Linked DNA regions of Homo sapiens. The protein of the gene in region 1 purifies or fractionates together with the protein of each later gene. This does not show direct contact. Each region holds a gene or a part of one and is shown on either strand. Other genes may lie near its edges. The genes, in order: CEP85L and MARK1.

Region 1 (3,831 bases):
TTATATTTATTAGCTGGCATTCATCTATAAAAAAGTTTTTTTCCAATCACCCCAGGCTATTGAGTTATTCTGAAATACAGTTCCAATTGGAAAGCTAATTAAAGTTACCTTTAATTAGCAGTTTTCAAGATAAGAAGGTAGCAGTTTTGGGGATCAGCAATTCAGAGTTGTTGGTTTTTTCTTTTTTTCTTCTTCTTTGATTTTATACTTGTTATTTCTTTGTCTCTCGCACCGAAGTTTGTGGTTCCTATCAACATTAACATAGATGCTTCCCCCCACCAATATGCAAAAAGTAGTTTCAAAGTAATTAAACCACTATTGCTACTAACAATAAAAACCACAGAGTGAGGTTCAAAGTTACTTTTTAGTTCTTTTTATCCTTGGAATAAATCTCATTATAGAAAAATACAGGCTGGGTATGGTGGCTCACACCTGTAATCCTAATACTTTGTTTTGGGAACCTGAGGTGGGCAGATCACTTCACCCCAGGAGTTTGAGACCAGCTTAGGCAATGTGACAAAACCCTCTCTCTACAAAAAATGCAAAAATTAGCCAGGCATCATGGTGTTTACCTGTGGTCCCAGATATTCAGGAGGCTGAGGTGGGAGGATCACCAGAGCCCGAGGAGGTCAAGGCTGCAGTAGTGAGTCATGATTGCGCCACTGTACTCCAGCCTGGGTGACAGATTGAGGCCCAAAAAAGAAAAATACATACACAACCAACATGCTTATTACGTGAGAGACTCCTAGAAACTGAGACTGGATTTATGTTTCCTCCCTTGGATATACGCTAAAGCATCAGATGGCACAGAGAAACAATTTCCACTATTTAAATTGTTATTTTTCTATGTGTTTTTTTTCCCACTGCATATATGTAGTTGAATTTGGTTAATGTGCATATAATATGACTCCATCGTTTTGTTTATAGACTTGGGGGAGAATGTTAACCTGTATGGCTTTGAGTACCTTTCCTCTGTTCTAACAATCTGATGTTTGTTTTCTTTATCCTTGCAGAACCAAAGACAAACAGATGAGACATGCTCTTTATTGGATCAGGGCCAGGAACCTGACCAATCTAGGCAGCAGACAGTTCTTTCCAAACGGCCACTATTTGATTTGACTGTGATTGATCAGCTGTTCAAGGAAATGTCCTGTTGTTTGTTTGACTTGAAAGCATTGTGTAGTATTCTTAATCAGCGTGCTCAGGGCAAGGAGCCTAATCTTTCATTATTACTGGGAATAAGATGTAAGTGTCTGATGACTTGTCCTTATTTTGTGGCAATTAGAAACCTATCTTCATGAATCAGGAACTTCCGACTGCCTTTTCTCTGTTTATTTTTGTAATCTCTTTTCCTACTTAGAATCAGTCTGTGGGTTTATGTATACCTGTTATTACTTCATTGCAAGAAGTGAGTAGGGTTATAGCTGACATTAACTGCCACTTGGTAGAATGCCTGGTGATGTTTCCTATGTTGAATCTGTAAATATGTGAATAGAGTGGTAGTTAGGTGTGACTTCCCATTTTCTCTTCCAAAAATAATGATTCCTTCTATTTGCTTTCATGTGTTAGTTGTATAGATTAAGTGACCCAACCATATTGTCCACTGGTAAAATATTTGAGAAATATTTTTGCTTTCCAGTGCAGTATATGTTCTATGGCAGCTGCTTCACGTGAGTGCCAGTGATTTCACATGAGCCAGTTTTCACAGCCTACAAATCTGTTGCCTTTGTCATGCGTACCTGCTGGCTTAATGTGACACCCATTCACTCTTGGCCTCAATTCTGTCTTCCTCCACACATAATTGTGGGAGCTGCCACAGTAATAATCCTAGTGTCCCTTTCTTTCTGTGCTACTTTTGCAGAAACGCTCATCTCTGTACGTGGTTCCAAATCAGGATGTTAGTCTCTTTATAATAGAGAAGAAATGAACTTGGAAGGAAATAGGAATGCAGTAAGACCATATAATAAGGTTTATGGGCCAACGTGTATTTAGTAGCTGCCTAATATTATGGTTAATAATACTGGTTTTGTTTCAAACAAACTGATTTTGTTTCTAGTTTCATCAAAAAGATTCCACCATTTTGCATCATAATAGTTATTTTGGCAAATCAAATAATGCTCTTGACCAAAGTATATCACTTGTTAAATGAAACATTATCTGTGCTCAACTATGTCCCTTTCATTTCATAGACATTTGTACACATACACAAATGTGGATATCGAAAAAACACATAATGTTTAAGTATATTCACTCACGGAGTAAACATTTATCAGATGCCTTCTATGGTCCAGACACTAAGTAAGTGCTGGTAATGCAGATAACCTGAACACAGTCCTTGTCCACACATTAACCAAATTATTAGAGCATTCTGATAGGTGCTATAGTTGAGATGTGGACAAAGGACAGTGGGAGCACAAGAGGAAAAAAACAACTAAATCTACGTGGGAAGGGCTGTGGAGACTCCACAGAGTAGTTGGTGTTCAGTGTCGCTCTCAGACGAGGAAGAGGAGAAGTTTGCCTGGTGAACATGGAGTGCTTTAATATCTCTTGGGAGCAAGAAGCAAAGCTCACACACAAAGGGAACTCACTTTCTTCATGATTTTAGAGTTGGTCACCCTTTTAATTACTTTAGAGTCTCCTACATTTTCACTGTCATAAGGTAGCATTTGTTAAGTTTTTCAGTAATAGAGTAGTAGAGCTATCCTAATGTGAATCTTACCACGCCCACCTCCCAATACTCCTTCTAGTCTTTAAAGTTTGACCCCAGAATCCTTACCTTATATTTGGCATTGTGAAAGTTTTACCAGCCAGTTGATTTGTGAAAAACCAGTCACTTCATGGCTCCATTTACTCACCCTGTCCTTCTGAAAACTGTGCACTACCTTGGTTTCCATGACATCATTCTCTAGGTTCTGCTTCTGCCTTTATGACTGCTCAGTCTCTGTCTTCTGTGGACTTCTCTGCCACTTAATTATTGGTATCCCCAGAAGCCTTTTGTTACTGGTTTTGTGTTTGTTTCTTTTTATTCAGTACTTTATCTGAGTGATCTTATCCACTCCTGTTTTTTCTGTTACTGCCATACCTTTCACCTAGACATTTATCTCCTTTACCCAGACATTTATCTCCTCTGGGCTCCAGATTATATTCCCATGTATATTAGAACTGGCTATTTCAAATGCATCACAGACTCTACACATTCAAAACCAGAACACACTTTCCTTCCCTCCCTGAACCGGTTCCTCTTCTCAGTGAGTAACACCACCATTCACCTGTCACTTGAACCCAGAATTTATTCTCCACTCTGCTTTTTCCTTCATCTGGCGCCTGTGCCCAATCCCTGCCCATCACTCAAGTTGATGATGATTGAGTGCTATCAGTTCTGTCATCTGCTTACTACATCTAACATTCCTGCCCTTCTATCTCCATTGCACTATTGCCTTAATTTAAGTTTTCATAACCCGTCACCTATACTGGTCTCTCTGACAACCATCTTTCTCATCCCCTCCCCCTAATCCATTTTACATTGTTGCCAGACAGATCTGTCTAAACTATGAACCTGGTTTCCTAATGCCTACACTGCTCTGTGGTCAAGATAGGTAGCTACTACCTACCTCTATAGCCTTATTTCTTGGTACTCTCCTTTGTCACAGTTTGTACTCTACCATTTTAGAGCTAGATACTGATTTTCTTGAGGTTTCTCAAATTCTATCATACTGTTTTGCTTTCTGACTCCACTTTTGTTCATTTTGCAGTTTGGCCAACCCAGTGAACAAGCAACTGTTACCTCTCCAGTTAGGACTAGTTGTTTGTTTTTTTATGCCACTGCAACTT
Region 2 (3,831 bases), on another chromosome or scaffold:
CAATTAATAAGTATGCACTCAGCATGTTCATTTTTTAGGTAAAGGGTTGGGAAGGGGATATAGAAGTAGTGTTTAAGATAAAGTCTCTCCCTGCAAGGAGCTTACAGAAGAGATAATAATCCCAAACAAGTAATGTATGGTAGAAGACATTGTGTAAATAGGGCTAAATTGGTTTATAGGTGTTATAGGTGTTTATCAAAGAGGCCACCACTGATGGCTACGAAATCACCATTGGTGACTCTCTTTATTCTCTAGTTGGTAGTAAATGGCATCATCCATTTTTACTTCTCATCGATGAAATAAAGTAACAAGCCTGCTTGTTAGCTAATATATTAATGCCAGTATGGCAGCCAAAATGTATTTTTGTTTATAGTCATTTTCAATTACATGACATATTTTTAAAAATAGTTACAAAACTTTTATATTCATATGACTATTAAAGGGTTCTAAGTCCTTTGGTATATCAAGGACACTAACTAAAAACATTTTATTTTCCTTAGAAATTAAAATCAACAAATACAGTAATTTAAAACACCATCTTGATATTTCGTTGTCGTTTGCAGTTAATATAAACATTTCTTTGGTCATCCATATAACGTATTTGGATTTTGTGTCCTTGGGAATATATAATATCTACCCTTCTCAGTGTCACTAATATATATTCAGGATAAATAAAAATCCCAAAAGAGGAATATTATAGCACTGATCTCTTATATACTACTGCTATATATAGTAGAATGAGAAAGAATTGCTTTTCTCTAAGAACAGTCTATGTGTACTTTTTCAGGAGTATTTTCTTTGATGAAAGATTTGTGTGTGCCTTGTTAATAGGCCTCAACGGGCTAAATACAACAGGACAACCAATGATTAACTTTTAAGGCAATAAACACTTTGTAGTAAAGTAAAAAAAATGTGTTGCAGATAATAGAATCTATGCAAAATGTGTTTGATTTTAGATTATAAACAGTAAGTCCAGAAAAAGAGTAAAAAAGATTTCTCTTTTTTTCTTTTGTTAGATTTTATTTGGATAATTCCACCATGGATATAGATAATATATTATCATTACTCTTACATGTTTTTTAATGAAACAAGAAAAAAAATTTAGTATTTGGGAAAAACTCCGATTATGCTAATTATTAATGGGTCAAAAATGCTCAGCCTAGCTTTCTGTGATGAAATTTTGATCAGTATGAAGAAAACTCTTTTGACTACTTCTTGGAATGTTTTAAAATTGAATTCAGTTAGACTAAAAAGCCTTTAATAAAAAAAGACTCGATGTTGAGTCTTGTGACATACTGAAATTCATGGCGGTGATTATAATGATTACCTATTGTAACTAAGGTTGCCATCAGTAGTTTGTCTTTTGAGAATCATTGTTAATGGCATGAAGAAGCGAGAGGAAAGCATACCTTTGTCACTATCCTTGGATTTTCTGTGCATCCTTCACATGTCACAGTACCTATCACATAGCATCTAATTGCCTGACTTTGTCTCCCTTAGTCTGTGTTGCCAGTGCCCAGCACAGTGACTAGTACAGTATATAAGAAATCAGTGCTGTAACACCCCCTTTGAATTTTTTCATTTATCATCAAAATATATTGGTGACATTGGTGAGGGTAGACATTACGTATTACAACCTGAGAGGCTGAATGAAGCCTTCAGAGAGAAAATTTAGTGACCTACCCAAGGTTAATAATTCTATCCTTCAAGGTGAATAATGAAAATCTGACACCTTCCACTATTACTGTACTCATGCTGTTACTTCGAGAAAGTGTTTTTTTGTTTTCTTTTGTTTTGTTTGTGTCTTAAAGAGTTTAGAAGAGTGGCTCATGCCTCTAATCCCAGCACTTTGTGGGGCCGGGGTGGGAGGATTGCTTGAATCCAGGAATTCGAGACCAGCATGGGCAACATGGAGAAACCCTGTCTCCACTAAAAATACAAAAATAAGCTGGGCATGGTGGTGTGTGCCTGTAGTCATTCACAGCTACTAGAGAGGCTGAGGTGGGAGGGTTGCTTGAGCCGAGGAGATAAAGGCTACAGTGAGCCAAGATCACACCGCTGCACTCCAGCCCGGGTGACAGAGTGTGAACCCTTTTTTTTAAAAAAAAAAATAGATTTTAGAAGAGCATATGAAATGGTATAAGATACTTTATTAGAGGAAGAACAGGGTATGCCGTCCCTATCCCTACTTCTGAACCTTTACTGTTTTCTGTGTGGAGTGCCTTGCACTTGTCCCTTCATATCAAATTTACAAATCCTTTATGGCTTGTCTCATTGTTTTAACAAGACTTCTGAAATGATTGCAGCTAATATTGTTGTTTGTTGTAGCTGAACAGTGGTGGATGTATATAGTACACATCAGTGGTCTCTAAAGTGGGTGTGCAGGGCAATACATTGGAAGAAGAAATGTATTTAATGTTTGTCACTTCACTTCTGACCTACATGCTATTATTACGTCTTTTTTTTTTATAAAAATCCAGTTCATATAGAATTAGACACATGATTTTAAAGTTATTATTATTGTTATTATTTTTCCTCTTCCATCTCATTGTTTCCTTTGGGTGTCATTTTCTCTTTTCCTGATGAATATCTGTGGAAGTTCTTTTGGTGCAGGATTGTTAGTGATGAACTTTTTTAGATCTGAAGACATATTTTGCCCTAATTCTTAAACGATAGCTTTGCTTAGTCTGTAACTCTAGGTTGATAGTTTGATTTCTTTCACCACTCAGAAGGTAGTATTCCATTGTCTATTGATATACATTGTTTCTGTTCAGGAGTCATCTGCTATTTGGTGTGTGATCCTTTCTGTCTGTCTCTATCTTGTGTGGATTCATATGTCTCATCAGTTATGGGAATGTACCAACCATTATGTCTTTGAATGTTACCTTACCTCTGTTCTGCATAGTATTTCTGGCACTCTGGTTAGATGTGCGAAAATTTATCATTCTATCCTTCATGTTTAACCTGTCATTTATTTTTTTCCTCCTATTTCACTGTTTATCTGTACTCCAATCTGTAGTATAACCTATACTATAGTTACCATATATGTTTAGATCTTTCTTCAGCTGTATATAACCCTGTTAACCTATCTGTTGAATTTTTTTTCATTGTGGTAAAAAGCACACATCAGATACACCCTTTTAACAAATTTTTAAGTGTGCAGTACAGTATTTTTGGTGGGGAGGGAGTAGATTTTAGTGGTGGTAAGGTGGCAATTTTATTTTTTTATTTTTTCACGTCTTATTTTTTATTTAATTTTATGATATGTATTAGATCTATTAGTGCATATTTTGGGGGTATATGTGTTAATTTGATACATTCATATAATCAAATTAAGGCAATTGGGATATCTATCACTTTACATATTGATCTTTTCATTATACTAGCAACATTAAAATTATTCTAGCTATTTTGAAATGTACAATTGATTAGTTAACTATAGTCACCTCAGTGATCTATTGAACACGAGGTCTTTTTCCTTCTAAGTGTATGTTTATACTCATTAATCAATCTCTCTTCATCCTCCCCTTCCTACTAACCCTTTCTAGCCTTTGTTAACCACCAATCTACTCTCTATCTTCATGAGATCGCTTTTTTAACTCCCACATATGAGTGAGAACATATTTGTCTCTCTGTACTTGGCTTATTTCACTTAACATAATGACCTCCAATTTCATCCATAGGCACAATATTGTACAGCACATCTCTAGAAATTTTTCATCTTGTGTGACTGAAACAGTGTACATATTGAACAGCAACTCCCTATTTCCCTTTCTTTCCAGACCCTGGCAACCACCATTCTTATTTTCTGCTTTGATGAGTTTGACTACT

Evidence for each region.
Region 2: the proteins of CEP85L (region 1) and MARK1 purify together in Homo sapiens (affinity purification with mass spectrometry; one large-scale study listed by BioGRID and IntAct). This does not show direct contact.

What each region holds. Positions count from the first base shown.
Region 1 is NC_000006.12:118,466,486-118,470,316, reverse strand, and holds part of CEP85L (centrosomal protein of 85 kDa-like), read left to right. Parts: intron 1-1,013; coding exon 1,014-1,245; intron 1,246-2,776; exon of another isoform or gene 2,777-2,858; intron 2,859-3,831. UniProt on the Homo sapiens protein: Plays an essential role in neuronal cell migration.
Region 2 is NC_000001.11:220,530,913-220,534,743, forward strand, and holds part of MARK1 (serine/threonine-protein kinase MARK1), read left to right. Parts: intron 1-3,831. UniProt on the Homo sapiens protein: Serine/threonine-protein kinase. Involved in cell polarity and microtubule dynamics regulation. Phosphorylates DCX, MAP2 and MAP4. Phosphorylates the microtubule-associated protein MAPT/TAU.